Homo sapiens: one gene and its partner. The protein of the gene in region 2 interacts with the protein of the main gene of each other region in a biochemical or structural test. Each region holds a gene or a part of one and is shown on either strand. Other genes may lie near its edges. The genes, in order: MAP2K7 and MAP3K4.

The links.
Region 1: the proteins of MAP3K4 (region 2) and MAP2K7 form a complex in vitro, tested with the Homo sapiens proteins (one study listed by BioGRID).

The regions. Positions count from the first base shown.
Region 1 is NC_000019.10:7,902,527-7,917,600, forward strand, and holds MAP2K7 (dual specificity mitogen-activated protein kinase kinase 7), read left to right. Parts: upstream 1-1,350; 5' UTR 1,351-1,418; coding exon 1,419-1,542; intron 1,543-3,281; coding exon of another isoform or gene 3,282-3,329; intron 3,330-7,228; coding exon 7,229-7,370; intron 7,371-7,536; coding exon 7,537-7,603; intron 7,604-7,733; coding exon 7,734-7,847; intron 7,848-7,926; coding exon 7,927-8,046; intron 8,047-8,169; coding exon 8,170-8,277; intron 8,278-8,453; coding exon 8,454-8,633; intron 8,634-8,723; coding exon 8,724-8,804; intron 8,805-8,888; coding exon of another isoform or gene 8,889-8,909; coding exon 8,910-9,052; intron 9,053-9,622; coding exon 9,623-9,668; intron 9,669-9,770; coding exon 9,771-9,905; 3' UTR 9,906-11,952; downstream 11,953-15,074. Other genes in the region: TGFBR3L (transforming growth factor-beta receptor type 3-like protein), read left to right, coding at 13,742-14,416, 14,947-15,074. UniProt on the Homo sapiens protein: Dual specificity protein kinase which acts as an essential component of the MAP kinase signal transduction pathway. Essential component of the stress-activated protein kinase/c-Jun N-terminal kinase (SAP/JNK) signaling pathway.
Region 2 is NC_000006.12:161,041,020-161,056,093, forward strand, and holds part of MAP3K4 (mitogen-activated protein kinase kinase kinase 4), read left to right. Parts: intron 1-7,596; coding exon 7,597-8,960; intron 8,961-15,074. UniProt on the Homo sapiens protein: Component of a protein kinase signal transduction cascade. Activates the CSBP2, P38 and JNK MAPK pathways, but not the ERK pathway. Specifically phosphorylates and activates MAP2K4 and MAP2K6.

The DNA of each region.
Region 1 (15,074 bases), on a different chromosome or scaffold from region 2:
CCGGCTAATTTTCGTATTTCTAGTAGACACGGGGTTTCACCATCTTGGCCAGGCTGGTCCTCTCCTGACTTCGTGATCCATCCGCCTCGGCCTCCCAAAGTGCTGGGATTACAGGCGTGAACCACCATGCCCGTAACCTTTTATTTCATGTGACCAAGTAACACCCGTGTGCCAGAATCAAGGATGAGTCTCATGTTCTCAGAGCAGAGGCACAGAAGGCTGCCTGGAAGACGGAAAGGTAAAGACCTCAGCTATAACTCTACACTTGTGTGTGCTCCACCCACAAATCGTCACCAGAGGAGTTCCGACAAGCCGGTAACTCTCATCCCAAAGTGTTCCCTCGTTGGACCAGAAGCTGGAAGGGCACTTGGCAGAGTCTGCCTGGCCCTGGCCACCTCCCGGGTGTCCGCAAAATCAGAACTTCCTTCTCGCATCTAAGAGCAGAGGGAAGCCGCTCTTGGGGGGATCCCTGGGTTCCAGATGGGACATTTCCCCAGCACCCGTCGGACCACTTAAAGGAGTGGTTTAGGCTGCCGGGGGCCCAAGCACTGGCACCTAACCCCAGCGCCCCTCCTCAGATAGGAATTCTCCACGTCCAGGCGCTGGGCTCACGTTCCGGGTGCGAGAGAGATAAGGGGGGTGTCTTGAGGTTCTATGTGGGTCTGGCCAACAACTCTGGCCTTGACCTTGGCCCCGTCGCCGAGGGCAGGGGTCACACCGCTGGGTTCCCATGGCCGTCCCCTCCCCCCTGGCTTCGGCCAACTCTGAGCCTGCTGGGGCTGGCAAGAAGGGAAAGGGCTCTCGACGGAGCCTAATTACGGTGAGGAGGCGGCACCCCGCTGCCAGCAGGAGGCTAGGAGGTAATTAAGCACAAGAGGAATCCTAATAAAGCACCATCAGTGAGGAAGGCATTCCGAAGGGACGCCCAAGCCGACCGTGAAAAGCGAGGAGGCTGAGGCTGCACCGCCGTGGAGACCAGGGATCGACTGCCGCTTTGGGAACGAGGTTCCAGGAATGCGCATGCGCAAAAGCCACGCGGGCGAACACGGCTTCGCCTCGCTAAGCATGCGCGCCGTTTTCCCCGCCCACCGTCCTCAGAAGAATGGTGTTTCCTCGCAGCGCCTCTCTCAGGAGCGATCGGGAATTGGCGCATGCGCACTACGGTGGTGGTGGCGACGAAGGCGGGGGTTGCACGTTGCCTGCCTCGAGCTCTAGGTGGCGTCATCCTTCGGGCTGAGCCGAAGCACGCACGCGCGGAGGTTCGCACGCGGAGAAGGGCGGGTGCGCGCCGCGGGCATGCGCGGTGCGGGGCGAGACGGCGGCTCGACGGGGTCATCCGGGCGCAGGCGCAGTGCGGTGTTTGTCTGCCGGACTGACGGGCGGCCGGGCGGTGCGCGGCGGCGGTGGCGGCGGGGAAGATGGCGGCGTCCTCCCTGGAACAGAAGCTGTCCCGCCTGGAAGCAAAGCTGAAGCAGGAGAACCGGGAGGCCCGGCGGAGGATCGACCTCAACCTGGATATCAGCCCCCAGCGGCCCAGGCCCAGTAAGCACGGCGGCGTGGGGGAGGGGGCGGGCGGGCGGGGCGGGGCGCGCGCCGCGGGAGGCCCCGCCCCCACCACAAGGCCCCGCCCCCGCTTCCGGGGCGCTCGCTCTCCTCTCCGCCCCCCCCGCTGCGGGCTCGCGGGGCGAGGGTCACGGTGACCCGGGGGGCGTGGAGCCGGCGAGCTCCGGGGGGTTCGCACCCTCAGGGCTTGGGAGCCCAGTTCCCGGACCCAGGCGAGGCCCCCAGCTGATGACCCGCCCCCATCGCCGTGATCCTCTGGGTCGGGCTTCCCCGACTCCACGCGACAGTGACCACATCCAGGTCGCCCCGAAAACACAGACACGTCCCTGTTGACCTGATGCTACCACTCTCGTCATCTCAGGGACTGTCTGGCGCCCCCCTCCCCCGGCCTGGGGGCTTGTCAGCCCCGTGCAGCGACGATCTACGCACACGCGCACGCCTGGCTCGGGGACACCTGAGGTTACTTGACCACATAGAGCCCCTCCCCATCTCTTCTGACCCGAGGATTCTCCCTCTCGCTCTCCCTGTGACCGTGTCTGAGGTGGGGGGACGGGAGGGGGTCCCTTCTCCCCCTCTTGGCGACAGTGACCATGGCATTGGGCTCAGCAGACCCCCTCCCACATACACCAGGCCCCGCAAATCCCTGTGACCAGTTTCACTGCCACCATCTTGGTGAGCGTGTGGTGTCTGACCTCCAGAAATGCACATCGACCCCCAGCCAGCCCGGTGACTTTGTCACCTGTGTTCAAGTGATGGCTCCCCTTCCCTTCACACCCACACCCACCTGACCTGGGGACACCTGGGGCCAGTGTGACTCTAGGCCTGCTCCCGCCGCGCCCCAGCATACATCCACCTGCTTTCTGATCAGTCCCACCACCTCGGTACCTACCTCCCTGACACCTTGTCATCCTAGATCAGTACCTCTCGCTTCACACACACCTGGCCTGGGAACACTGACCATATCTAGTCTCCCGGCTTTTTCCCCAAGATCCTGGTCTCTAAATCCTCTGGGCTGGAGGAAATTAGATTTTCAAACCCTGTGAACACCACCCCTGACCCATGATCCTTTTTGTGTCTTTCTTGACCCAGTAAAATTCTCTCTTGTCTCCTCTGATGTGACCTTCGTAGTTTATTTAGTTCTCTCTATGGAGTCATTATGGCAGGCGAGAAAGGTACCCCCGTATCTGGGCACCCCACCCATTCCCTGGTCACCCAGCCTGACCTTCACAGCCTGACACCCTCCTGTCCCTCCCTCTCCTGACCTGAGTCAGCGTGGGTTCCTCCTTGGGGAGTCTCTTGGGGGTCCAGAGAAATCATGGAGGTGGGGATTCTGGTGCAGGACACTGCCTGAGACAAGAAGCCCAGCCAAGACACGGGTCCCTGCTAGCCCCTGGGGGCCGCCCTCCCTGGCCCCTGAGTGGATGAGACAGGGTTGAGTCCAGGATCCCGGGTGCCTTCAGGGGTGGCCGTTCCCATGCAGAGCTAGGAGGCCGGTGGCAGGCAGGCCCCCGAGGAGTCCCCTCCAGGCGTCTCTGTCTGTGTCAACTCCATCCCATCCTCCCCGCCCTCCCCATCTCTGTCGGTTCCTAGCCATCTCTGCAGTTCGGTGCCTCCCCCTCCTCCTCGTTTATGATTTGATTTCTTTTCTTTTGGACGAATCAGTCGTTTCTGTTGTGATTTATCGTGGTGTTGTTTTTTTCTTCCTTTTCCCCATCCAGTTATTGTGATCACTCTAAGCCCTGCTCCTGCCCCGTCCCAACGAGCAGGTACCAGCCTTTTTATCATCGCTGCTTGGACATCTGCACCATTGACCTAACCGCTGCCCCGGCCGCAGAATGGCGTCCCCCAGCCCCCATGCTCTGTGTGTGTCCCCATGTCCCTTCCCCTCACTCTCACTTTCTCTCTCACTCCACTCAAGCAGCGGTCAGCCCAGCCCAGCCTCCTCTGCGTCCTCCCTCCTCCTCCCCCTCCCTTACTCCCAGCTCCACTTTGGACTCCCTGGAGGAGGAGGTGGGCTCCCCCACTGAATGGGAGTCTGTGGCCTCCGGGGGTGGGGGGGGTGCACGCCTGTGTGTGTGTAACTGAGAGAACGAGAAAGTTGGGCCTGGTGGGTGGGTGGCCTGTGCCTATGGATCTCTCTCAACAACTAGGTGAACACATAGCACCCCCCGGGTTCCATACCAGCCCTGGGCGCCAGGGACACAGCAGTGAATAGAACAGATGGAGCCCCTCTCCTCTGTAGCGGGGGGCTGCAATAGGGGGGCCCACTGGACAAGGAGCACATTCCCACCAGAGAGAACATTCTAGCTGGGTGAGCGGCCCTGCAGGGGGCCAGCCTGGGGGAACCTCTGGAGACGGTGGGAATTGAACAAAGCCTCTGGGGAGGCCAGGCACGGTGGCTCACACCTGTGATCCCAACACTCGGGGAGGTTGAGGCTACAGGGAGCCATGATCACACCACTGCACCCCAGCCTGGGTGACAGCGAGATCCTGTCTCAAAAATTTAAAAACTGGGCCAGGCGCAGTGGCTCATGCCTGTAATTTCAGTACTTTGGGAGGCCAAGGAGGGTGGATCACTTGAGGTCAGGAGTTCGAGACCAGCCTGGCCAACATGGTGAAACCCTGTCTGCATTAAAAATACTAGAGATTAGGCCAGGCACAGTGACTCACACCTGTAATTCCAGCACTTTGGGAGACCGAGGCGGGTGGCTCACCTGAGGTCGGGAGTTCGAGACCACCCTGACCAACATAGAGAAACCCCGTCTCCACTAAAAATACAAAATTAGCCGGGCATGGTGGCACATACCTGTAATCCCAGCTACTCGGGAGGCTGTAATCCTAGCTACTCGGGAGGCTGAGGCAGGAGAACCGCTTGAACCCGGGAGGCGGAGATTGCAGTGAGCTGAGATCGCACCATTGCACTTCAGCCTGGGCAACAAGAGCAAAACTCCATCTCAAAAAAAAAAAAAACATAAAAGATTAGGTGGAGGTTGCAGTGAGCTGAGATCGCGCCACTGCATTCCAGCCTGGGCAACAGAGCAAGACTCCGTCTCAAAAAAAAAAAAAATTTAAAAAGCGTCTTGAAGGAGTTGGGGGGGGAGAGAAGACAGGGCCGCCAGGGCTCTGAGCGCAGCGCCAGCCTGTGTGGGGCATGCAGGCTGTGCCCCACGCCTGTGTTGGGAGAGAGAGTAGATGGGGTGCCTGGCCCTGTGAGTGGTTGTGAGTATGTGTGTCCGAGGGCAAGGGGGACTCTGTCCCGGCTGCATGGGTGTTAGGTCCACGGCATGCCCCGGGTGTGTGTTGTGCGTGCGTGCACTTGCACGGCATGTGCGTGCATGTTGACATGGCAGCCGGTGCACCTGTGGCTCCTGTCGGCAGACACGTGCCCTCCAGCCTCTCGCTCTCTCTCATCCGTTCTCTTTCTCATCCTCACCCTCTTGCTCTCACTCCACCCTCCTGAGCTGCCATGTGGCCATCACCACCTCTGTGGCCTCTGTTCTCAGGGCCTTTGTGTACCTCCTTCCCCCAGTGCCTACCTGAACCCTCCCTTCCATCCCCCCATGCTCCAGTCTGTGGTCCGGCAGCCTCCTCCCCAGGCTCCGGGGCCACCCTCGGAAGGCCTGGTGGGCTCTGTCAGGGAAGGGGCCCACAGGACTCCTCGAGGGCTGTGGTCGTCAACCGCTGAGTGCAGGGTGTGAGCGGGACTCGGATACTCTCTGAGGGCGGGAACTAGGCAGTGTCTCAAGAGATGCCAGGTGCACAGGGGTTGGGGGCTGGGTTGGGGGGAGCACAGGCCCTCGGGAGCCAGAAGGGGACTGGGGCTGTGGCTCAGGCCATGGACAGAGCAGAGGCGCAGGGACCTGAAGAAGCAGAGGGAGAAGCCTGGCCAACATAGCGAGACCCCATCTCTACTCAAAAGACAAAAATTAGCTGGGTGTGGTGGCGTGTACCTATAATCCCAGCTACTCAGGAGGCTGAGGCAGGAGAATCACTTGAACCTGGGAGGGGGATGTTGCAGTGAGTTGAGATCACGCCACTGCACTCCAGCCTGGGTGACAGAGCGAGAACCTATCTCAAAAAAAAAAAAAAACAGTGGGAGGTGACGTGGTGCTGCAGAGGCGGCAGTGGCCAGGACAGCGGGAGGGGCACGGGAGGTGAGGCCTCTAGGCCAGTCATGAACGCTGGGCCTGGCTGTGTCCCAAGGTCCCCAGAGCCCTTCCCCTGCTCCTGCCTGGTCCTCCAGGAGGGGAGCTAGGGGGCACAGCTCCTGCAGGGGCTGGCAGGACCAGATAGGGGCAATGCTGGGCCTCCTGCATTGGGACTGAGGCGTCTTCCTGCCCCTCCTACTGGCTGAGATCAGGGTCCTGGGCACACGGGAGGGACGGGGTTTAGCTGCCAGCATGGAGCGGGTTTGTCTGTTCATATTAGTCCCTGGGCACCAGTCACCAGGAGCCTGCAGAACTGTGGGGAGAAAAGGTGGACGAGGCAGGAGGAAAAGAGGGGAGAGGGGCTTGTTGGCTGAGGGCTTTGGAGAGCGGCAGGCCCCAGCTCCTGTGGGAGGGGCACCTTGGTAGGTGTGTGTAGCCGTTGTCAGGGCCTCTAGGATGTGACGTGTCAGGATTGGCTCCTCTGGAGGCCACGTTAGCATCCCGGCCTCTGTTCCTGCACCCTGTTGCCAGCCCAGCCAGGGAGACCCTAGCTCCTCCGGGAAGCTGCCCTCCTGTCCCAGGCCCCTCTCTGGCCTGTCTCTGCAGCGCCTCCTCTGGGCACCTGGGCCCTAGTCTTGGTTCCTGTCTGTCTGTCTGTCTCCTGCCCTCCCACCCCTAATGCCGCCTGCCCACCCCAGGGTGCCTGCTGCCTGCCCGCCGCCTGCCCACCCGCTGTAGCATGCCCGAGCTGCCCGCATGCAGGCTGCTGGATGAGCCAACCCCCGCCTGGCCCAGCATTGGCCCCACCTGGTCCCGCCAGCCCCTGCAGGAGCTGTGCCCCCGAGCTCTCCTCCCAGAGGATGCAGGCCCCCTGAGGTCCTGTCCTGCCCCCATGGGCCCCAGCTCTGCAGGCCAGGCCAGGAGGCCCTCATGTCAGCCCACTGGCCCGAGGGGGGCCCTCCCTGACCCCGGAACAGAAGATAGGGCAAGGCAGCCTGAAGCCTGGGTCTCGTGCCCGCTGCCTCCCCAGCGTGGCCCTGCTCGCTCTTGTCTGGGAGCCAACTTCAGTGCTACCAGCAGAGCCACAGCCTGGGCCAGCCCTGGCAGGCACTCCGCCCTGGCCTATCCATCCTGTGGGTGCTGTGGCCCTGGGCCTGCTTCCTGGGCAGAAGTGGGAGGAAGTGCACACACCTGTCAGGGAGGCCCCCTGGCCGAGGGACACCTCAGGTCCCCATCTCGTTTCTCCGTCAGCGTAGACTTGGGGCTCCCTCTCCCCTGCTAGCCTCCTCCATCTCTTTCCAGGTCAGGGGATGAGACAAGGGACCCTGAGAACAGTCTGGGGTGGGAGGGAGACCCCAGCTCCTCCAGCCCAGCAGGGCAGGGGGCTGTGCCAGCCTAGCTCGGGAAACCCAGGAGGGGAAGGTGAGGGTCCCGACCCCTCCCTGGAGTGCCAGATGTGGAGCTGACACCAGCTGGGCGCTGACCCCCCTCCCTGCCACTGGTTCTCACCCCCCTAGCCCTGCAGCTCCCGCTGGCCAACGATGGGGGCAGCCGCTCGCCATCCTCAGAGAGCTCCCCGCAGCACCCCACGCCCCCCGCCCGGCCCCGCCACATGCTGGGGCTCCCGTCAACCCTGTTCACACCCCGCAGCATGGAGAGGTGAGCCAGGGGCCCAGCAGGGTTGGGTGGGAAGCAGCATTGAGGGGCCACCGTGCCAGCCCTGGGAGGAGGGTGGTTAAACCGGTGGGAACCCCGGTATGGGGGACTGGGGTGGCCAACCTAAGGTCAGGACCCACCTCCACCGGCACCTGCTCCATGTCCCCAGCATTGAGATTGACCAGAAGCTGCAGGAGATCATGAAGCAGACGGGCTACCTGACCATCGGGGGCCAGGTACCACCTTCACTGTGGCGGGGAGAGGGAGGAGGCCCAGCCAGGCTGGACCCATCCTGGGAGCGCCAGTGGGGGGCAGGGGGCGGTGGCAGAGGCCCCAGGGACCCTCCAACCCTCCCTCTCCTCCCAGCGCTACCAGGCAGAAATCAACGACCTGGAGAACTTGGGCGAGATGGGCAGCGGCACCTGCGGCCAGGTGTGGAAGATGCGCTTCCGGAAGACCGGCCACGTCATTGCCGTTAAGGTGAGCCTTGGCGGCTACCCCGGCTGCGCCCCACACCCCAGGCCGGTGCTGAGGCTCCCTCCTGTCCCTGCCTGTGCAGCAAATGCGGCGCTCCGGGAACAAGGAGGAGAACAAGCGCATCCTCATGGACCTGGATGTGGTGCTGAAGAGCCACGACTGCCCCTACATCGTGCAGTGCTTTGGGACGTTCATCACCAACGTGAGTACCTGGCCGCGCCCTGCAGCGTCTCCTCCTCCCTCACCCCTGCCCCTTCCTAGGGAGCAGAGCCTCTGGGGGGTGGGCCGGAAGACACAGCTCCCCCGGGTGCCCCTCTCCCTGCAGACGGACGTCTTCATCGCCATGGAGCTCATGGGCACCTGCGCTGAGAAGCTCAAGAAGCGGATGCAGGGCCCCATCCCCGAGCGCATTCTGGGCAAGATGACAGTGGCGGTGAGTGACCAGGCGGGGCTTGCACTGGGCAGGATGACAGAGGCGGTGAGTGACCAGGCGGGGCGTGCACTGGGCAAGATGACAGTGGCGGTGAGTGGCCAGGTGGGGCGTGCACCGGGCAGGTGGCCTTGGGTCTGTGCCCCCTGCCACATGCACCCCCCTCTGCGTGCCTGCAGATTGTGAAGGCGCTGTACTACCTGAAGGAGAAGCACGGTGTCATCCACCGCGACGTCAAGCCCTCCAACATCCTGCTGGACGAGCGGGGCCAGATCAAGCTCTGCGACTTCGGCATCAGCGGCCGCCTGGTGGACTCCAAAGCCAAGACGCGGAGCGCCGGCTGTGCCGCCTACATGGCAGTGAGTGGGGGCCCCCCAGCGGGGGAGGGGGTGGGGGCTGGGAGGCCGGCCCCAGCCTTGGAGATACGTCTTCTCCTCCCCCCCCTGCAGCCCGAGCGCATTGACCCCCCAGACCCCACCAAGCCGGACTATGACATCCGGGCCGACGTATGGAGCCTGGGCATCTCGTTGGTGAGTTGGGGCCCTCCCCTGTTCTCCAGCCAGGAGTGAGGGCTTCTGGGGGACTCGGAGGGAGGAGAACATAAACCTGTCCAGCCCTGCCCGTCTCCCTCCCAGGTGGAGCTGGCAACAGGACAGTTTCCCTACAAGAACTGCAAGACGGACTTTGAGGTCCTCACCAAAGTCCTACAGGAAGAGCCCCCGCTTCTGCCCGGACACATGGGCTTCTCGGGGGACTTCCAGTCCTTCGTCAAAGACTGGTGAGAACCTCCCTCCACTTGGGAGGTCAGGGACAGCCCGCTGCTCTGGGCAGCTGGGGAGGCAATGGCAGGAGGGGAATGGAGGCCGCACCCTGGGATGGGCGGATGCGACTGTGGGCGGGCTCCTGGCTGGCGGCTGCCACAGGAGCTGGAGCTGGTGCCCAGGGAGCCATGAGCTGGGTTTGGACCTAGCCTGAGGGGACAGCCAGCCCTGTGGCATTTGGCGGGGTGGCTGTTGGAGATTGTGAGCACGCTTCTGCAACAAGCACAGCTACAAGTTCAGGAGGGCCATGTTCGATTCTCTCAGGGGAGCCCCACCCACCTTTCTGGGGGACCTCAGCCAGCTCTGGCCCCCCAAGCCAGGCCCTTGCCACCTGGCCCTAGGCCAGGAGGCTCCGGGACTCACAGTTGCTCCCCGCTGTCAGCCGGGGTCCTGAGGACATCCACAGCTCCTTCCCCCACACACATCTTGGGGACCCCTGGCCCCTTGGGGAGGGCCTGAGCACAGGGGTGGGGCCGGCATCCCCTCCTCCCTCGTTCTCACATCTGTCTTCCCTTCTCTTGCTCTAGCCTTACTAAAGATCACAGGAAGAGACCAAAGTATAATAAGCTACTTGTGAGTACCTGAGCCCTCCCAGTCCCCGTCCTGTCCCTGCGGAGGCGCGAGGCCAGGAGGGAAGACCGTCTCCTCCTAAGCCCCACCCCCTCGGGCCCACAGGAACACAGCTTCATCAAGCGCTACGAGACGCTGGAGGTGGACGTGGCGTCCTGGTTCAAGGATGTCATGGCGAAGACTGAGTCACCGCGGACTAGCGGCGTCCTGAGCCAGCCCCACCTGCCCTTCTTCAGGTAGCTGCTTGGCGGCGGCCAGCCCCACAGGGGGCCAGGGGCATGGCCACAGGCCCCCCTCCCCACTTGGCCACCCAGCTGCCTGCCAGGGGAGACCTGGGACCTGGACGGCCACCTAGGACTGAGGACAGAGAGTGGGGGGTGCCCACCCACCCCCCCCGCCCCGGGCCTACCAAGCCCCCGCCCTTCCCACCCCGGGGTCAGCCGGCCGTGTGCGTCCCCCGACAGACACTGTGAACGGAAGACAGCAGGCCGCGATCAGAGTCGCTGTTCATTCAGCCGCAGCCTCTGGGCCGGGGCGGCCCCCAGGGGCCAGGAGAGAGCCCTGGAGTCCCGCAGCCACCATGCACGCTCCCAGCGTGCTGTGTCCTTCGCCACTCCCACGCGCCCGTTCCTCTTCCGTCGCCCTCTGTCCCCTGCTCTACCTCTCTGTCCTTGTCTGGCTCTCCCGTCACCCTCCCTGCCTCTGTCTCTCTTCTGGCCTGAGCCTGGGCCCAGCCACCTCCTGACGGGTCCCCTGGGTCTGCATAGGTCTCCCATGGCGCAATGAGTCAGTGGCCCCCAGCCAGGCAGTGTGGGCATTGCCACTGCGGCTGGACGGGGCTGCGCGCTCGCGCTCTCTCTCTCTCTCTCTCTCTCTCTTTGATCTCAGGGGGTCCTTTTTGGAGTTTATTGTATTTTATTGTACTTGGTGGGGTGTTTGGGGTGGGGGCGGAGGAGAGCTTGTTCTCGTGGGGTTGTCGGTACCTTCAGAAACTTTTACCAAAGTCACGATTAGCTGCTTGTGGTGGGGCCCCAACCGCCCTCGGGCACTGGGGAGCTGGGCTGGGGCTGCTGCTCTGGGGTCTCCGGGGGCCACAGCTTGGGGTGAGTTGAAGACCTCAGGGGATGTGGAGGGGTCTGCGGGGCCCTGGCCGCACAGGATGGCCTTCAGGGAAGGTGGTCTTGGGGCATGGTGCAGAGCAGGTGACCGGAGGGAATCGGTGACGGAGCGGGGCCAAGGGAGGGGTCCGGAGGGAGTCAGGGATGGAGGGCAGAGGGAGTGGATGTGGGGGTTTGAGGACGTGTGACAAGCTCCAGCAGGGGTGGGGGCCGGGCTGAGGGTGGGGGTGCGAGGTGGTCACTCCCATCGTGCCCCTGGCCGTCCCTCCACTCACCCACACCTGGCCCAGTCCACGTTGAGGTCCAGGACTGGGAAGGACCGGGTGAGTGCACCGGGGACCCAGGCCAGGTGCCCCCCGGAGCCTGCTGGGGTGGCCAGAGCAGGAGGGGGTGTGTTTCCTTTTTGTGGGTGTTGCATGCAAATCAAGTGGACAAGAAAAAATAACAAAACAAAAAACAAGAAAAAAAAAACACAAAACCCCGTAAAATCACAAAGAAAATCCAACACCAAAGGCGCAGAAGCCGGCTGGCCGTGGTGGGGGCAGCGTAGGCGTAGCATCCCTCTCCTCTCACTTAGCCTGTTGACTCTTGTTATTATCATGATATTCACAAAACGCCGCATGTTTAAAAAGTCATAGATGTCATCTTCTCTCTGCCCCCAGGGAGGAAAGCCACCTTCTCTTGCCCCTTGGCCCCTTTGTCAGGGGCCAGGGGTCTGCCGGGTGGGGGTGCCAACAGGCCTGGCCCTTTCCTCCCCTGCATCCAGCCATGGGGGCCTCTGCGATTGCCGGAAGGTTGCATGGCTGGTCCCAGGGCCAGCACAGGCCCGAGGCCGGGCTGCCTGGTTTTATTTTTATTTAACTTTATTTTCTGTTTTATGAGTGTGTGTCCGCCCACCCCCACCCCCTTCAGTGTTAAGTGGGGAGCCCTGGGGGAGTCTCTCCTGCCTCCCAGCCTCTCCCAAGACCTCCCCCCTCGTCACCAGCCATCCCTCTGGACCAGGCAGAGGGCGGACCGGGTGGGCAGGGGCCTGAGGGTGGCTCGGGCCAGCCCACCAGCCAATGGACCCCTCCTCAGGCCGCCAGTGTCGCCCTGCCCCTTTTTAAAACAAAATGCCCTCGTTTGTAAACCCTTAGACGCTTGAGAATAAACCCCTTCCTTTTCTTCCACCGAGTCTGTGGTGTGTCATGGGCCTGGCAGGGCGAGGTGGGAAGGGGGTGGTTGCGGGGGGAGGTTTCTGCATTGAGGGGAGACTGAGGCAGGTTTGGGAGCTAGACGGGAGGTGTTTGTAGTGACTTGCCGATGGGTATCAAGCAGCTGGTGTAAGGGACCCCCTGCCCCCAGTGGCCACAGGTCGGGCAGCAGAGGATCCCTTAATCCCCTCAGGCCTTGGGCATTGGCTCTGGTGTCAGCCCCTCAGTCTGCCACCCCCGCTCCCTGCCTCCCTCCTTGCCAAGGACAGGGCCGCCTGCCCACGTGCGGGACCTGGGTGCAGCCCAGCTGGTGTCTGCTCTGGCCCCAAACACTCCGACCTCAGCTGGTCCAGCATGCTGGGCACCGTGCTGCTGCTGGCCCTGCTCCCAGGGATCACCACCTTACCCAGCGGGCCACCTGGTATGTATGGGCAGGGAGGTGACGGGTCTGTCATGCTTCTATCCCTGTTTCACCCTCTTTATTTTTTTTGAGATGGAGTCTTGCTCTGCCACGCAGGCTGGAGTGCAGTGGCGCAATCTCCACTCACCGCAACCTCCGCCTCCCCGGTTCAAGTGATTCTCCTGCCTCAGCCTCCTGAGTAGCTGGGACTACAGGCACGCACCACCACGCCTGGCTAATTGTTGTATTTTTAGTAGAGACAGCGTTTCCCCATGTTGGCCAGGCTGGTCTCGAACTCCTGACCTCAGGCGATCCGCCCGCCTCGAACTTTTCAAAGTGCTGGGATTACAGGTGTGAGCCACCGCGCCCCACCGATGTCACTCTCTTTCAACTAGACCTTTGGTGGTGGTCCTCATGGGGGTGGGGACAGGGCAGGGGAGTGGGGTGGGGTCTCTGTCCCCCATCCCAAGGGTGGCTCACATCCCCACTTCGGCAAAGCTCCCTGCAGCCACGGAGAGGGCCAGAGTTGTGGGAGGGGGCCAGTCTACCCAGGTGCTCTTCAGAAGTGGGTGTGGTGTGCGGATGGACAAGGGGGCTCATGCCTGTAATCCCAGCACTTAAGAGAGGCTGAGGTGAGAGGATCGCTTGAAGCCAGGAGTTCCAGACCAGCCTGGGCAACATAGACCCCGTATGGCCGTGGTAGCGAGTGGCTGTGGTCATAGCTACTCGAGAGGCTGAAGCAGGAGGATGGCTGGAGCCCAGGAGGTGGAGGCTGCAGTGAGCTGTATTCGCACCACTGCACTCCAGCCTGGGCGACAGAGGGAGACCCTGTCTCAGAAAACAAGAAAAATGGATGTGCAGGCAATCTTTCGTATTTGGAGATTAGCCGTTTTACCAGGACCCCGCTCAGCACCTGAAGGCAGACATCAGCGTGTGTTTAGGGGCACGAAGAGGGGAGGGGTCCCATGGCTGCCTCAGCCTGGACAAGTGGAAGCGTCTCAGATCTTGGTGGCCTGGCTGGGCTTTGGCTGTGCCCAGGAGAGCCTCTTGGGAGGGTATCCTCTTCACTTCCCTTCCTCGTTGGTGACAGCACCTATCTCCCCTTAGAAAGGGGAGCCGCCTGTCCTGCTGCGTCCCCAAGAGCAGCCCTGGGGAAGGTGGGGGAGCTCTGACTTCACCCAGCCGGACCCCACCATCGGGTGCTCCTCACCGCTTCTCTTCCGCCCCAGGGAGGGCTTCGCCAGCTTCGGAGGCTTCTCTAGGGGCGCATGGCTCTGCAACCGGCTCAGTTGCTGGGCTGTGCGAGTCCCAGGGGTCGCCAGGGGGCACATCACCGTCAGGGGGGAAAGTGGCGCGGAGCCCATCATGGGTGAATCGGCCGCCGCAACCGCATCCCTTTTCCAAAGGCGGCGGCGGGGGCGAGGTGGTCGGGTCACTTTTCCCGGAGGCCTAAAGGGCAGCGCGCGTTTTCTCTCCTTTGGGCCGCCCTTCCCCGCCCCGCCAGCTCCCCCGTTCCCCGCGGCGCCCGGCCCCTGGCTGCGCAGACCCCTCTTCAGCCTGAAGCTGTCCGACACAGAGGACGTCTTTCCTCGCCGCGCGGGGCCGCTCGAGGTCCCGGCCGACAGCCGCGTGTTCGTGCAGGTGGGGACCCCGGGGACACCAGGGGCGGATGGGGGCCGGTGGGGACGGGCGATCCCTGATGGCGCCTCCGTCCCCCAGGCGGCCTTGGCCCGTCCCTCCCCGCGCTGGGGCCTGGCCCTGCACCGCTGCTCAGTGACGCCGTCCTCACGCCCGGCCCCGGGGCCCGCCCTGGCTCTGCTGCGTGAGGGCTGCCCCGCCGACACCTCTGTCGCCTTCCCGCCACCGCCGCCGCCGAGCCCGGGTGCCGCCCGCCCCGCGCGTTTCAGCTTCCGCCTGCGCCCGGTCTTCAACGCCTCGGTGCAGTTCCTGCACTGCCAGCTGAGCCGCTGCCGCCGCCTCCGGGGAGTCCGCCGGGCGCCTGCGCCTCTGACGCCGCCGCCGCCGCCGCCGCCATCGCGGGTGCGCGGGCGCAGAGCCTGGAATCCGGGCGCTGGGGCCCTTCGGGGGCTGGGCACGGGCGACTCTGGCAGTGGAAAGAGGATACTCTCGGGGTCTGAGGATCTGGGGGTTGGGGGAGGTGGGGCGCAAGGGTCCATCTCTGCCGACAGAGTTTCTCCGGGGACAGTGTGGACACTGGGTTCCCCCATGGACAGCTCTGGAATCCTTCAGGGCTGGGGGTTGGATGCAGAAGGCCACTAAGGGGACACATTTCTGGGAACCTGGTGCTGGGCCTCACATGCTAGGTGCTGGGAGACGCGGACCATGCGATCTTGTGGGGCTGGGATTTGGGGTCCTTAGGGGCTGGGCGGCTAGCCACTTGTATGCGTAGGGGCTGGGCTCAGGGCACCCTAAGGGGCCGGATTTCCAGGGGTCCCATCTTGGCTGTGGTGGAGAGCTGGACTCAGGTCTCTCTTGGGGGCCCTGGGGACCAGAGCCACGATCCCGGTGCCCTGATGTCCCCGTCTCTTCCCCACCTTCCTCTCCCCCAGTGTCTGCCTCAGGACGAGGCGTGCGCCGACACTGGCAGTGGCAGCGCCGAGGGCCTGGCTGCTGACGGCCCCCACCTGCACACGCTGACGCAGCCTATCGTGGTCACCGTGCCGCGGCCGCCCCCCAG
Region 2 (15,074 bases):
GAGCCACCTGGAGGAGAAGGTGAAGCAGCCATGTCCAGAGTGTGAGTAGGAGAAGGCTTTGGGTAGGAGAAGGCCAAGGTGGAGCAGAGCTAGAACTGCTGCCCTGGAAGGAGGGCCTGGTGGCTTCCAGCCCAAGGAATAGCAGGAGGACCAGCCCTACCTCCAGCACCTGCCCAAGGAACATATAGCTCTAGGATTCACTTTCTCAGGACCCAACCTGACTACCTATCGGCAAATCCATGAATGCTGACCACGCTGATGCCTTCCCAGCACCTGTCTGTGGGTAACTATCTCTTAACAGGAGCCCCTGGGGGCTGGAGTGCAGGCTACTGGCATCTCTACGCTGCCAGTCATCCCTGGTCCTTCCCCTAACCCTGCCGAGGCCCAGGACCCTCAGCCCACAGGCATCTGTGAGGGAGCAAGGAAGTGAACCCCTGAGATACGGCCATTTGCAGGGCTGTCGCATGGAGGACTTGCCTCTAGGGGCTCAGCTGGTATGGGGGCAAGGGTAGGGCCAGGAGCCTGTTGTCGGCTAAGGCTCCAGAGAGGACCACGGCCATTGCAGCAGCAGCTTTAGATCTGGTGACTTTCAGGAGCACAGGAAATCATCTTCCTGATGCCTCGGACATGGCCCCCAGGTGCACTTGGGCCTCAAGTGGGGCTGCCCTGTGCAGCCACTCCCACTACAGCTTGTGCAGGGCTTTAAGCCCAGTGCCTTGTCTTGGACCTTTTAGACCAGTGTGGCTGTTACATAGAGAGTTGACGAGCAGAAACTGGTATCTCCACTTCAGGTGTGGGCTACTTGTGATACCAGACGGACAGAAGGTGGACAGACTCCAACCATGGACAGGCAGATGCTCTCAGGGAGGGTAAAGGCCTTGAGTTATTGTTTCTTTTTTTTTTTTTCTTTTTTTTTTTTTTAGAGATGGGGTCTCGCTATGTTGCCCAGACTGGCCCGGAACCTCTGGACTCAAGTGATCCTCCCGCCTCAGCTTCCAGAGTAGCTGACCCTCCTGGTGCGTGTCACCACCACAAGTTTCAGGCCTTCTTTTAAAGGGCTTTTATGTGATTAAGTCAGGCCCACTCAAGAAAATCTCCCTTTTGATTAAACAAAAATGAGCTGGCTAAGGACTTGAATTATATCTACACAGTCCCTTCTTAGCAGCAGGATGTTAGTGTATGTTTGAACAGTGGAGAGAAGAGGCTGTGTACTACAAAATGGCTGCTGCATCTCATGGCCCAGCCTTCACCAAAAGCTGAAAATTCCTGTCTTATTGGGAAAACTTTCTTAATTTATATGATAGTTTAAAAAAAGGCATTTTATCTAAAGACTGTGTTTGAGTGTTGGGTAAGGATGATTAGCTCTGCATTACCTGAAAGTCTGCTATCTGACGTCCCAGTTGATGTAACCTACCAGGTAAACTCGAGTGAACTCAGTGAACAGGCTTGATTTCATACTGTGGTGAGTGTTAAGTTTAACACCACAGGAGCTAGCTGCGGTGTTATTTGAGATTATGCTTTTGGATAATGGTAGTCATTACCAATTTATAGCAATTAAGATTTTGATACGTTTTGGACAATATTTAGTCAAATATAACTGTTTGTTCTTAAGGTTGGTTTAAGAGACAGTCAAACCATTTTTTTCCTTAAATGTTTGTTTTCTTTTTAATATAGCAGAAGGAAGTACATTCAGTTTATCTCATAGTTTAAGTAGGTGAAATAGGAATTTAAAAGACACCCAAGCCAAAACCCTTTCCAGGGCATTGCTGGGCGATCATTGTCAGCTTCATTTTGCATTTCTATTCTAGCACTGCCATAGCGGGATGGTCATCAGCCATAGCTGGGTTACAGAAGTAGAGCAAATATTTTGCAATTTATATGAGAATTTGCACACACACACACACACACACACACACACACACATCCCTGTTAGGAAATATCTCAAGGTGTGTGTGTGTGCATGCATGCGTGTGCCTATATATATGTGTGTGTAAATGTGTGTATCTGCTAACAGTAGTGAAATTAGAATGTTTGCTTTTTAAAGAATATCATACTGATGTAAAATGGAGCTGGTAAAATGGTTACAAATCAGATTCAATCTATATAGCTAGTGAAATGTTTGTGTCAACCAGAGTGGATTTAAATCCATATTTCAGCTCTTTAGTCTAAACTTAGCCTGACTTTCAGGGTCCTGGTTTGTGTTTCCAGGCTTCCATATACAGGCTCAGTGTTCAGCCACACTCTTTTCTTTGCTGCCCTTGTGTCTCTTCTTTGCTGGCTTCAGATATGCTCTTGCCTTCTTTACTTCCCTTATTTAAGCTTCCATTCTTCGAGGCCCCAAATCAAGTACTTGCTTTTACTTTAAGCCTTTACAGACTAGTTAGCCTGTGTAATCTTTTGTGGTACTCGCTGTCTTAGCCTTTCCTTGGTCAGTTGGTACTGCCTTGCAAACACCTTTGACAAGTCCAAGGATGGTGTGGTGGCACCAACTTGGGCTAGGACCCCTGTTCTGACATTAACCATGTGTCTAACCATCTGTGTTCTGTGATAATCTTCATCATCATGTTGTTACGAAAATTATGACAATGTCTGTGAAGCCCTTACCTGGAAAATGGAAGCTGGATAAAGCAATTTCTCAAAATGTGGAGCCATTGTAGCCATGTCAGAGATACGTGCACTTTAGCAGGAACGCAGTGATTTCGAACATACACTGAAATTTGAGAAGCTTGAGCTAGATGATCTCTAAGTCCCTTCAGGTTGCTGACTTGTCTGGTATTCTAGTTCATCATTACTCTGAAGATCATCTCATACTTAAAGATTATCCATCTGTTTACATCTCATTTGAGAGCTCAAATAAGGCTGGTTTCTAAAATTTGGACAATATGTATATGGGAGAACATAAAAATTGCAAGAGTTTGATTAAAAATACAATTAATACATATTCTAAAGAGCCATTTTTAGTTGTAGATGGTGGGAATTCATTTGTTTGTCTTATATCCGTCAGATGAACCATATTGCTTGTCATTGGTTCCTTTCAGTTTCATTATAAAGTTTTCTTTTAAAAAAATTTTTATGTTCTTCTGATTTTACCAGAATTATTGGTGATTGGCCAAAGGAAAAAGTGTTCCAGAGGTTTGCTTTAATTGTGCTACAAAAATCACACCATTTCATTTATAGTCACTTGGGAGATCAGGTGTCCCATTCATCAAGTTATTAAGAACTATTTTTGTAGTCCTGTAATTAGAACTTGCCAAATAAAACATTCTATATAGCTAACTCCTGTACTTTTTATTCATTTTCCTTTTCAGAATTCTGCTCTGTTTCCATTTGACTTTTGTTAATTGCAAAGGAATTTAGTATTAATAGGAAACCAAAAAACAAGCACACCTGTCCATCAGTAATAGGCTTTTGGTTGTTATTAAAAAGTTCCTTAGTCATGTCAGAGTGGGTAAAGACAAAATGTAAAAATGCTCAGGGAAATGACTAAGTCTATAGACTACCCCCGCACCCAACACCCTAGTGTTGTTCTCAGATCTCCCTTAAGTCATAAGTCCCTTATGATTTTATAGAGGCCTAACTGGTCATCAGTTGCCAGAAAGCACTCTTGGATTTACTCTCTGTGTCAGTCCATTTTGCGTTGGCTATAAAGGAATACTTGAGACTGGGTAATGTGTAAAGAAAGAGGTGTATTTGGCTCATGGTTCTGTATGCTATACAAGCGTGGCACCAATATCAACTCAGCTTCTGGTGAAGCCTCAAGAAGCTTTTACTCATGGTGGAAGGTGAAGAGGAAGCAGGCATGTCACATGGAGAGAGAGGGAACAAGAGAGAGCTCTCACATGAACTAATAGAGCGAGGACTGGCTGGTTCCCGTGGGGAGGGCACTAAGCCATCCATGAGGAATCTGCCCCCATGACCCAGACATCTCTCATCAGGCCCCACTTCCAACACTGGGGGTCACATTTCAGCATGAGATTTGGAGGGGGCAAATATACAAACCAAATCACCCTCTCCTTCTGTCACAAGTATATTATTCTAAAAATGTAGCTACTGCTGAGGTAGAGTAATTGGTATATCCTTTTTGCACAGTAGCTAGACACGAGTTTGTCTATTTTAAGTTCGAATTGCGTCATTATTTAAACTAAGATGTATGAATTTATATTTTGTGTATATTTTTCCAAAACCAACTTGGGTTTTGTTTTGGGGTGGGGGGGAACAAAAAGCTTCTCTGTCCCATCTTGCTCCTTTCCCAATTTGCTTTTCCTTAAACCTACTATGTAGGTCCAAATATTAAACCATTGCTTTATCTGAACACAAAATTTCAAAAAATTGTGTAATAGACTGTTTTGTATGCTGTGAGATAAACTTAACAAGATTTGTATTTAACCTATAAAAGTTACTTTTTCAGGCTTGCTGAAATGAGATTATGTTTATGTGGAAAAATGGGATTGTGGCATTTTTTCTTAGATTGCTTTCATTGTTGGAATAAAGGTCTAGGGTGAGAAGCTTCATCTGTTATTATTTTCATGTTTTGCCCCTGGTAAGTGTAGCACAGATTTGGAATAATGCTTGTAGCCAGTCTTCTGGGACTATTAAAGTCATTTAATCCTTAGTTTTCACTTAGGACCTTTCAATCATAGATTAGAAGAACTTGAATAAATTATATAAGAAAAGTAATATTTTTTCACTCTCAACTATTACTTTCCAATTATAAATTGTATGCAGATAGTCTGTGGCCATTATCAATAATGCACCACATTAGTTCTATAAAGTATTTTAAAAAGCCCAACGCCTGAGCCAACAAGATTGTTTTTTATTTCACAATTTTTTGTTTTCTTTGACTCAAAATCATTTATTTGGGTGTACATAATAGTTAATACACATTCTATTCTAGGTCTTCATTGCCTTTCTTCTGCACACTTTTCTTGGATGTTCTTATCTACTATCACGATATTAAATAATATCTGTACATACTAATAATTTCCAAATCCATTTCTCTGGATTTCTCTCCTAAGCCCAACATGTGTGTTTTTTTAGTTACCTATAGATATTTCCACGTGTATGTCCCATAGGCACGTCAAATTCAGTGTATTAGAAACTGAACTCATTTTCTTTACCTCCAGTCCTACACAGTGATACAATGTATATGTCATTTTGTGTTTCCCAGTAATAAAGTATAATATGAATTATCTTGAAAAATATAGTGGAGTTAAATGTGGAAGCACTGGTCATTTTTGGTTTCAAAATACCATGGGTTAACCAAATAGTATGTATGTGCTCTGTTAATAAAGGTATAAAAAACACAGTTAAACGCATCAGAGCAAGAGAATTAAAGTTGGTCTAAGCAATTTTTTTATATAAATAAGAGTTGATAAGCATTTATAGCTAGAAACAATAAAACTGTGAAGAAATTTTCTTAAATGGACTATATGAAAAGTTTAAAGACATTTAGAAGTAGATTAGTACTAAAGATAAAAATTCTATCTTAAAAATTTTAAATTTAAAAAATAATAATAATAGTAGTTTGTATACTAAAATACAGCAAAAAATCTCTATGGACAGATTGGTTTAAAACCTTTTTTGATGGATCATAAAGTAAATTTAAGGCAAGTTTAATATAAGAAAAACCAAGCTATAAGTGCTCTTTGGGAAATTTGTTTAAAAATCCTTATTTTAAGACTAATTTGAATCGGTTAGGAAGTAAATTGGTTTTAAGCAAATTTTCATTGGTGCCTTGGTTTGTGGTATATTGGTTTGTAACCCATGTAAATATACCCTATTCCATCAAATCTGAAGATATACTAATATGTCTTTAGATATTACATTCACAACTAATCTCTTATATATTCCCAACTAATCACCTAAAACTAGGTGATATTATATACTAAGAAAATTATATAATAATTTCTTAGTATAATTATTATATTAATATATATAATAAAATTCTTAGTATATAAGAAATATATACTAAGAGATTATAATATATTCTAAGGTAAAAACAGCTTATAATTGATGGTGTGTTCTTATAATTGGAATTTTTATTTATTTAAAGAGATCTTTTATACTTTCTGATATGTAGATATATATTTCACTTATGCATATATATATATATATATATATATATATGTTTAAAAAAATGGGCCAGGCATAGTGGCTCATGCCTGTAATCTCAGCACTTTGGGAGACAGAGGTGGGAGGATTGTTTGAGCCCAGGAATTTGGGACCAGCTTAGGAAACATAGTGGGATCCTGTCTCTACCCAAAAAAAAAAATTAGCTGGGTGTGGTGATGCGTGCCTGTGGTTCTAGCTACTTGGGAGGCTGAGGCGGGAGGATCACTCGAGCCCAGGAAGTTGAGGCTGCACTCCAGCCTGTCTCAGAAAAAAAGAAAAATGTAAATGAAAAATATTGGCAAATATGTCCCTAAAACTTACTTATATCATCATTGATTATATATAACGTTCTAATTTCAGAGATGTTAATGTATGAAAAAATGTGTGTCCTAGATTCAATGAAATAAACTATGCCTTGAGTGTAGAGGGTAGATTGAGATGGCGTTATAGGTTTGGGCATTATCGATATATGATGTGGAAATGAATGAGATCACCCAGGGAGAAGAGATCTAAGATTAGCACTTGGAGAAACATTAACATTTTATGTAGTGAGCAAAGCTCCAAGGAGGTATTTGAAAAGAAGGGACTAACTTAAGGAAGTGTAAGAACCCAGAAGCAACAGAATGAAAGGATTTCAGTAACGTAGAGCAATTAATAGTGTTAAAAGTGCCATACAGGATGTATGTGTGTTCATTTTAAAGCTTGGAATCAGATTATAGAACCTCTTCTAGATGTTTGAAGGAAGTGGGTGGTTTTTGCTTTTTTCGCATTAATTGTAAATGATTTTACATGGCAGTATAACATACTAAGCAAATTATACCAAATTAGTCTATATGTCTTCAGTCTTGCTAATTTTAAATTTAAAATGTTATTGCCCACTTGTTTGTGGCAAAGGAGAAATAAAGGAATAGAATAAACTAACGTCAGTGTTTTTGTCTGTCAACTGTCTTTCAGTTTTTTATGAGAATAATCTTAGGGTGCCTTAAGTATTCTTGCATCAATGTGCCTAATTTTATCAATGAGAAAAGTAATCCAGATAATTTACGTGATTTCCTCTTAAGTTTACACATTTAGCTAATGACAAATGCAGGAATTAAATATATTTTCTCATCCAGGTGTCCGTCAGATCTCCCATGCTGTTTCTTCCTCCTTAAATTGAAGGTGATTACTTACGGAAATTTGGTTAAATGATTTGATAACTATGCTTTGTAGCATAGAGAGAAATAAACAGCTAGTTTAGGTAATTAGTTGTGAATATAAGAGAATACAGCAAATACTGGAAAAATGGATAATTTTTTTTAAAATATAGAAAATGTCATATATATTTTTTGATTCCTTTAATTTTTAGGATATGGTATGCTTTTTTTTCTTCCATTAGCAGTCTGAAAATATAAATATGTGTGAATACCAGTTTTATTGAAAATATTGAGAGTAGCTTCATATTTTAGAGTTATATAATGTTCTGTTTATTTTTTTTTTTAATAGAAAAAATGAATGCACCAAATCAGCCTCCACATAAAGACACTGGAAAAACAGTGGAGAATGTGGAAGAATACAGCTATAAGCAGGAGAAAAAGATCCGAGCAGCTCTTAGAACAACAGAGCGTGATCGTAAAAAAAATGTACAGTGCTCATTCATGTTAGACTCAGTGGGTGGATCTTTGCCAAAAAAATCAATTCCAGATGTGGATCTCAATAAGCCTTACCTCAGCCTTGGCTGTAGCAATGCTAAGCTTCCAGTATCTGTGCCCATGCCTATAGCCAGACCTGCACGCCAGACTTCTAGGACTGACTGTCCAGCAGATCGTTTAAAGTTTTTTGAAACTTTACGACTTTTGCTAAAGCTTACCTCAGTCTCAAAGAAAAAAGACAGGGAGCAAAGAGGACAAGAAAATACGTCTGGTTTCTGGCTTAACCGATCTAACGAACTGATCTGGTTAGAGCTACAAGCCTGGCATGCAGGACGGACAATTAACGACCAGGACTTCTTTTTATATACAGCCCGTCAAGCCATCCCAGATATTATTAATGAAATCCTTACTTTCAAAGTCGACTATGGGAGCTTCGCCTTTGTTAGAGATAGAGCTGGTTTTAATGGTACTTCAGTAGAAGGGCAGTGCAAAGCCACTCCTGGAACAAAGATTGTAGGTTACTCAACACATCATGAGCATCTCCAACGCCAGAGGGTCTCATTTGAGCAGGTAAAACGGATAATGGAGCTGCTAGAGTACATAGAAGCACTTTATCCATCATTGCAGGCTCTTCAGAAGGACTATGAAAAATATGCTGCAAAAGACTTCCAGGACAGGGTGCAGGCACTCTGTTTGTGGTTAAACATCACAAAAGACTTAAATCAGAAATTAAGGATTATGGGCACTGTTTTGGGCATCAAGAATTTATCAGACATTGGCTGGCCAGTGTTTGAAATCCCTTCCCCTCGACCATCCAAAGGTAATGAGCCGGAGTATGAGGGTGATGACACAGAAGGAGAATTAAAGGAGTTGGAAAGTAGTACGGATGAGAGTGAAGAAGAACAAATCTCTGATCCTAGGGTACCGGAAATCAGACAGCCCATAGATAACAGCTTCGACATCCAGTCGCGGGACTGCATATCCAAGAAGCTTGAGAGGCTCGAATCTGAGGATGATTCTCTTGGCTGGGGAGCACCAGACTGGAGCACAGAAGCAGGCTTTAGTAGACATTGTCTGACTTCTATTTATAGACCATTTGTAGACAAAGCACTGAAGCAGATGGGGTTAAGAAAGTTAATTTTAAGACTTCACAAGCTAATGGATGGTTCCTTGCAAAGGGCACGTATAGCATTGGTAAAGAACGATCGTCCAGTGGAGGTAGGTTTCCAGTAGGTATTAATACAATGATATCCTTAGTTCCATTTATTTATTGCAAATTATAATGTTGGTGTTATGTACTTTCATATTCTAATATTTTTGAACACAAATGGCAGTTATAAATTGCACATTTAAGCATTTCTGTAAAGTACTATGATTAAATAGATCTATGAAAACTGCATGAAATTTAGTGAATTAAGTGCAGGGTGGTATGTGGAGGGAATAAGTTCAACCACGTAAATACAGGATGGCAAAGGACAGGCTGGGTATAAACAAAAATGGAAGGAAGAAAGCCATAGTCATGGATGACCACAAGCTGCATGTGAGTCAGGAAAAAAGTCCACGTCACACTCAGGTGTTTATAAATGAATAGGGCGCCCAAGGTCAAGGAGAGAGTTCTTTCTCTATCCTTTGAAGTTGTTTTCTCTCTTTTGATTAGCATGTCAAGTTTTGGTCACTGTATTTTAAAGAGATGTAAATTATAGAGAAATGTCAGAATGATCAAGGGGAAAAAGCCAACACTATCTCGCAAGGTTAAAGTGTTCGGTGCAGGTGATGAAAGTTTAAGGGAAGTCCTGATTTTTGTCAGATATGTGTTTCGATATGTGTAGATTTTTGTGAGAGGAATGTGCCCACTAGAGGAAGTGACTTGAAAACAGTATAGATTTGCTTTTGATAGCTTGACGTGTTATAAATTCCTTATTGTAAAGGGTGGTAATACTAGACAAGGGCATTTTGTGGGATATCATTCTTGAGAGTCCAAAATAGTACTGTACAAGTGATTTTGCTTTTCTGGTGAGTTTGCATGTTCGTCTGGCTAAAAGTGAAACCCAAATCTTTGAAATACCTTATACCCGTGTTAAGTCTGTGATTCTGAATTTTAGTAGCTGTATACATACATATGTACAATCCCCTTGGTATCAGAGGTGGTTTGGTTTTGGGACTTCCCACGGATCCCAAAATCCGAAAATGCTCAAGTCCCTCATACAAAATGATGCAGTATTTGCATATAACCAATGCACAACCTCGTATGCTTTAATCTCGAGATTATGTGTAATGCCTTATGTAATATAAATGCTGTGTAAATGGTTGTTAATACTGTATAGTTTGGGGAATAATGGCAAGAAAAAAGTTTGTACATGTTTAATACAGATGTAGTTTTTCTTCCCAAATATTTCTGATCTGCAGTTGGTTGAATTCATGGATGTGGAACCCACGGATATGGAGAGCCAACTGTATATACTTGTTATTTTTATTTTTTTAACTTCATTTTTTTTTTACACAGCCTGGCTTGCTTTAAATTCATTAACGATAAACAACTTGGAAACTATGGAAAACACCTGAAGAGAACTTGAGTTTGCAAGATTTTAATTTTTTATTCTGACAGCCGGATTATGAGCCCTTAGGAGGAACGGGTTAAGCATTCACATAAATTCAGGAAGATGTTTACAACATGAACCAGTGCTTTGTAGCTATATTTTAAGAGATTTACTTTGAATATTATTTTGATTAGAAATCTTAAACATGAATGGCTGGAGTGGTTTAATTTCATTAAGGACATATGTTGGTAAGACAGGATTGATGTTTAATTTGTATTGTGACCACTGGTTTTGAAGTAACATGAGTGAAGAAAAAAGTCCTGGCAGTACCAACATCCCTTGGTATCTCATCCCAGGGGGATTTGTTCCAGGACCCCCATGGACACTCAAATCCTTGGATGCTCCAGTCCCTCATATAAAATGGTGTAGTATTTACATACAACCTATGTGCATCCTCCTGTATGCTTTAAATCATCTATAGATTACTTATAATACCTAATACAATGTAAATGCTGTGTAAATAGTTGTTATACTGTATCTTTTTTGTTTGTATTATTACTATTACTGTTTTAGAGACAAGATCTCACTACGTTGCCCAGGCTGGACTCAAACTCGTGGGCTAAAACAGTCCTCCTGCCTTAGCCTCCTGAGTAGCTTGTATTACTTTTTATTGTTGTATTCTTATTTTTAATGTTTTTTCAAACATTCTTGATCTGCGGATGCATATCCCAGGGTTTCAGAGGGCCGACTGTATAACCTCACCTCTAATTCAGTGGTTCTTATAGGAGAGCAGCACATGAGAAGAGGCCACGGTGGGGCGGGGGTGAGTTGGACATGTCGGGCTTCCGTAAACTGCTTCACCCACCCTCCCTCCCCAAATTGTCTTCCTTCCTCTCCAGGCTCTTCGTGGTGATTAACTATTGCTACTAATGAGGATTGTATCCCTTAGATATGTTATAGCAAGAAAAGATTGAGAACACGTGCCCTACATCTTATATTAGAACTCATGTTGAAAAAAGACAGTAATAGTTTCCCCAGAGTTCTGAATTCTCATCTGAGTTGTAGTTCTTTGGTTTGACCAATTGAGATTTCGCTGAAGAGGTCATCTTTGTTATAGAAGAAAAGAAACACGAATTCAAAGTTTATAAGGTATATAACTGAAAGACTTTATTAGAATTTTGTGTAGGTTGTTTGCTTTTCAAAAAATGAACTACAGAAGCCCCTGTTGTTTTAAATTTTGGTTCATAAGATGCTAAGTGTTCATCAGATAATGAAAGAGTAACAGAGAGCGAAAGTGGGACTTCTTCAGTATTGGGGATTAATCCAAACTAACAAAAGATAAGGCTCTACAATTCTAATTAACTTAGTGGGAAAGTAAGATTTTATTTTTATTCCCACTTTAGGAACATAATTTCTATAAAGGGAGGCGTGTGTGTGTGCGTGCTTGTGTGTGTATGTGTGTGAATATGTGTACAGTCCCCCACTCCCAGGTTTGTTTTAGTCGTTTTATTTGGTATGTCAGGAAAAGAGTCACAATTTTGAAGTCCATTAACTGGGTTTCATTTCTCACTGTGACCCTTTCTTACCATAGAACGTTGTGGATAGGAATCTTTCTGACTCGAAGCCTTTGCATTTATAGAGTGGGTATAATACTACCTTCTTACCTACCTCACAAGGTGGTTGTTGTGAGGCTGAAAAAGATAGGCGGTAAGTGGTGTTTTCATTCCCACACTGCTATAAAGAAATGCCTGAGACTGGGTAATTAATAAAGAAAAGAGGTTTAATTGGCTTATGGTCCCACAGATTGTATAGGAAGCATGGCAGGCAACATCAGCTTCTGGGGAGGCCTCAGGGAGCTATAGTCATGATGGAAGGCAAAGCCAGAGCAGGCACTTCTCATGGCTGGAGCACGGGCAGGGTGAAGGTGCTCCATTCTTTTAAACAACCAGATCTCTTGACAGCTCACTCACCATCATGAGAACAGCACCAATGGGATGGTACTAAACGGTCACCTCCCACCAGGCCCCACCCCCAACATTGGGGATTACTATTCAACATAGGGTGGGGACACAGATCCACATCTTATCAAATGGTAAAATGCTCTACAAATCAACCATAAACTTTTAGAAGTTTTATTACTTTTTCTTCCTTGAAGCTAACTGTAAATCCATATGGGTGCAACTGTATTTTTATTTTTAAGATATCTTCTGCCTTTTAACCTCTGCCAAATAATTGTACATTTTAAGGGCATACATTTTAGGCAGTAAAACCTTTTAGGTTTGAGGACTTTTTTGTTTGTTTGTTTGTTTTTGAGACAAAGTCTCATTCTGTTTCCTAGGCTGGAGTGTAATGGGAAGATCTCGGCTCACTGCAACCTCTGTCTCCCGGGTTCAGGCAATTCTCCTGTCTCAGCCTCTTGAGTAGCTGGGATTACAAGCGTGCACCACCATGCCTGGCTAATTTTTTGTGTTTTTAATAGAGACGGGGGTTTCACCATGTTGGCCAGGCTAGTCTTGAACTCCTGACCCCAAATGATCCACCTGCCTCCGCCTCCCAAAGTGCTGGGATTACAGGCGTGAGCCACTGCGCCTGGCTAGTGTTTTTGTTCTTAATTGTTAAAATATCTGAACTGACAAGGTACCACAGATTGTACATAATGCATATTTTGCAGTTTTTGTGGTTTCGTGATAATAGGAATGAATATAGGTGAAGGATTTTGTAGAAAAGAAGAAATACACGTGATGTTTGATTTTTCTTATCTATGTCTTTATATATTTTTTGATTACGTTACTTATAACCAGTGTTTGCAAAGCACATGTGATCTTACATTTAATTTCCCTTTGTAAGCATGCTTTACAAAATAATTTTTTTTTGAGACAGAGTTTCGCTCTTGTTGCCCAGGCTGGAGTGCAATGGCGCTATCTCAGCTCCCTGAGACCTTTGCCTTGGGGGTTCAGGCTATTCTCCTGCCTCAGCCTCCGGAGTAGCTGGGATTACAGGCATGCGCCACTATGCCTGGCTAATTTTTGTATTTTTAGTAGAGATGGTGTTTCACCATGTTGGTCAGGCTGGTCTCAAACTCCTGACCTCACATGATCCACCCGCCTTGGCCTCCCAAAGTGCTGGGATGATAGGTGTGAGCCACCGCGCCCGGCCCAAACTAATTTTTCTCTAAAACTTTATTAATATTTCAAAATATTTTAAAAGAACTGAACTAGCAATACTAAAAAAAAATCTGTTTGCAGTTTGTTTTCATAATATGAATGCCATAAATGCCTTTAATGATTTGTTCAAAATTATATGAAGTTGTAGCTCTGTACCTTCTGTAAATTGATTTCCTCAGGACACATTTCTAGTTACATAGGCAGTCTCTAATTGAAACAAATGGATTAGTTTCCAGAGTCCACTTGAATAGGCAGTTGTTTGGGATCTTGAAAATACTTATCTATAGAAACAGTGTTGTAAATAAGAGAGTCTCAGATTATCAAATGAAACTTATTTAAATCCATGTAACTGAACTAATAATACCAGCTGCAGTTTTATCCTGGCTGTAAGGACTACCATGATGGGAAAAAATAAGAGGAAACCTTACCCTCCCCCATATCCATTTGTGGACCCAGATACAATCCAAGATCTTTTTTATATTTTCTCATTTATCTTCTTCTTCTCTTATTCCATTGCTGTTTAGAACATCCCAGGATCTTATTGTTTGTACTTATTTTTCCACCTTGCTGTAATACCAGTTCTTCTAGTCTGAGTATTGTTGATCTTGGGTCTTAGGGATGAATGTATCAGCCATTTCATAATGTATCATGGTCTCTCAATGACAGGGATTGTCTTGCCTCCAACTCTTGCTCCTCTTTCATTAGATGTGCTTGTATGGTGACCCTTCCCAACCCTGCTTAAAAGTTAACAAGAGTCATCTCAGCAGTCCAGTAGTTTCCAGGTGTCCTTCCCAGCAGTTACTGTAGCTAAGGATGGGTTTTGTAATACTATTTACAGTTCAATTTAGCTTAGAAATTAAGACCAAGTAAACATATATAAAAGATTTATCCTTAATATCAAAACTACTGCATACAATTGTATTTTTTAGAGCAAACTTTTCATCTTGGAATAATATCAGATTGATAGAAAATTTGCAAAGATAGTACAGAATTCTTATATGCTCTTCATCCAGCACGCCTTAATATTGACTTCTCACTTACCCAATACATTTGTTAAAACTAATATATTAACATTGATACAAAGTGCTGTTAACTAAACTACAGACTTTTATTTGGATTTCCCACTTTTTCTAATAATTCCCTTTTCTGTTCTAGGAACCAGTCGAGGACACCACATTGCATTTAATTGTCATGTCCATGAATCTGGATTTGTCTGATATGTTCTCATGATTAGACTGGGGTGATGGGGCTTGGGAATGGATGCCACAGAGTTGAAATGCCCTAGTCGCATTACATTGTCACTGTTGATGTTAACCTTGATCACTTGGTTAAGGTGGTGTCTGCTAGGTTTCTCCAGGAGTTACTATTTTTTCCTTTCCATACTCCAATTCTTTGGAAGTAAGTCACCACACACAACCCACTCTCAAGGGGAGGGAAATTAATCTCTACCTCCTGGAAGGGGGAGTATCTAATGTATTATTTGGAATTTCTCCAGATGGAAGTTTTGCTTCTTCTCATTTATTTGGCCATTTATATCAGTATGGACTCATAAATGTTTGCTGTTGTTTTTACTTTGAATTATAATCCAGTACCATTGTTACTGATTTTGTTGCTCAGGCTGTTCTTGTTTT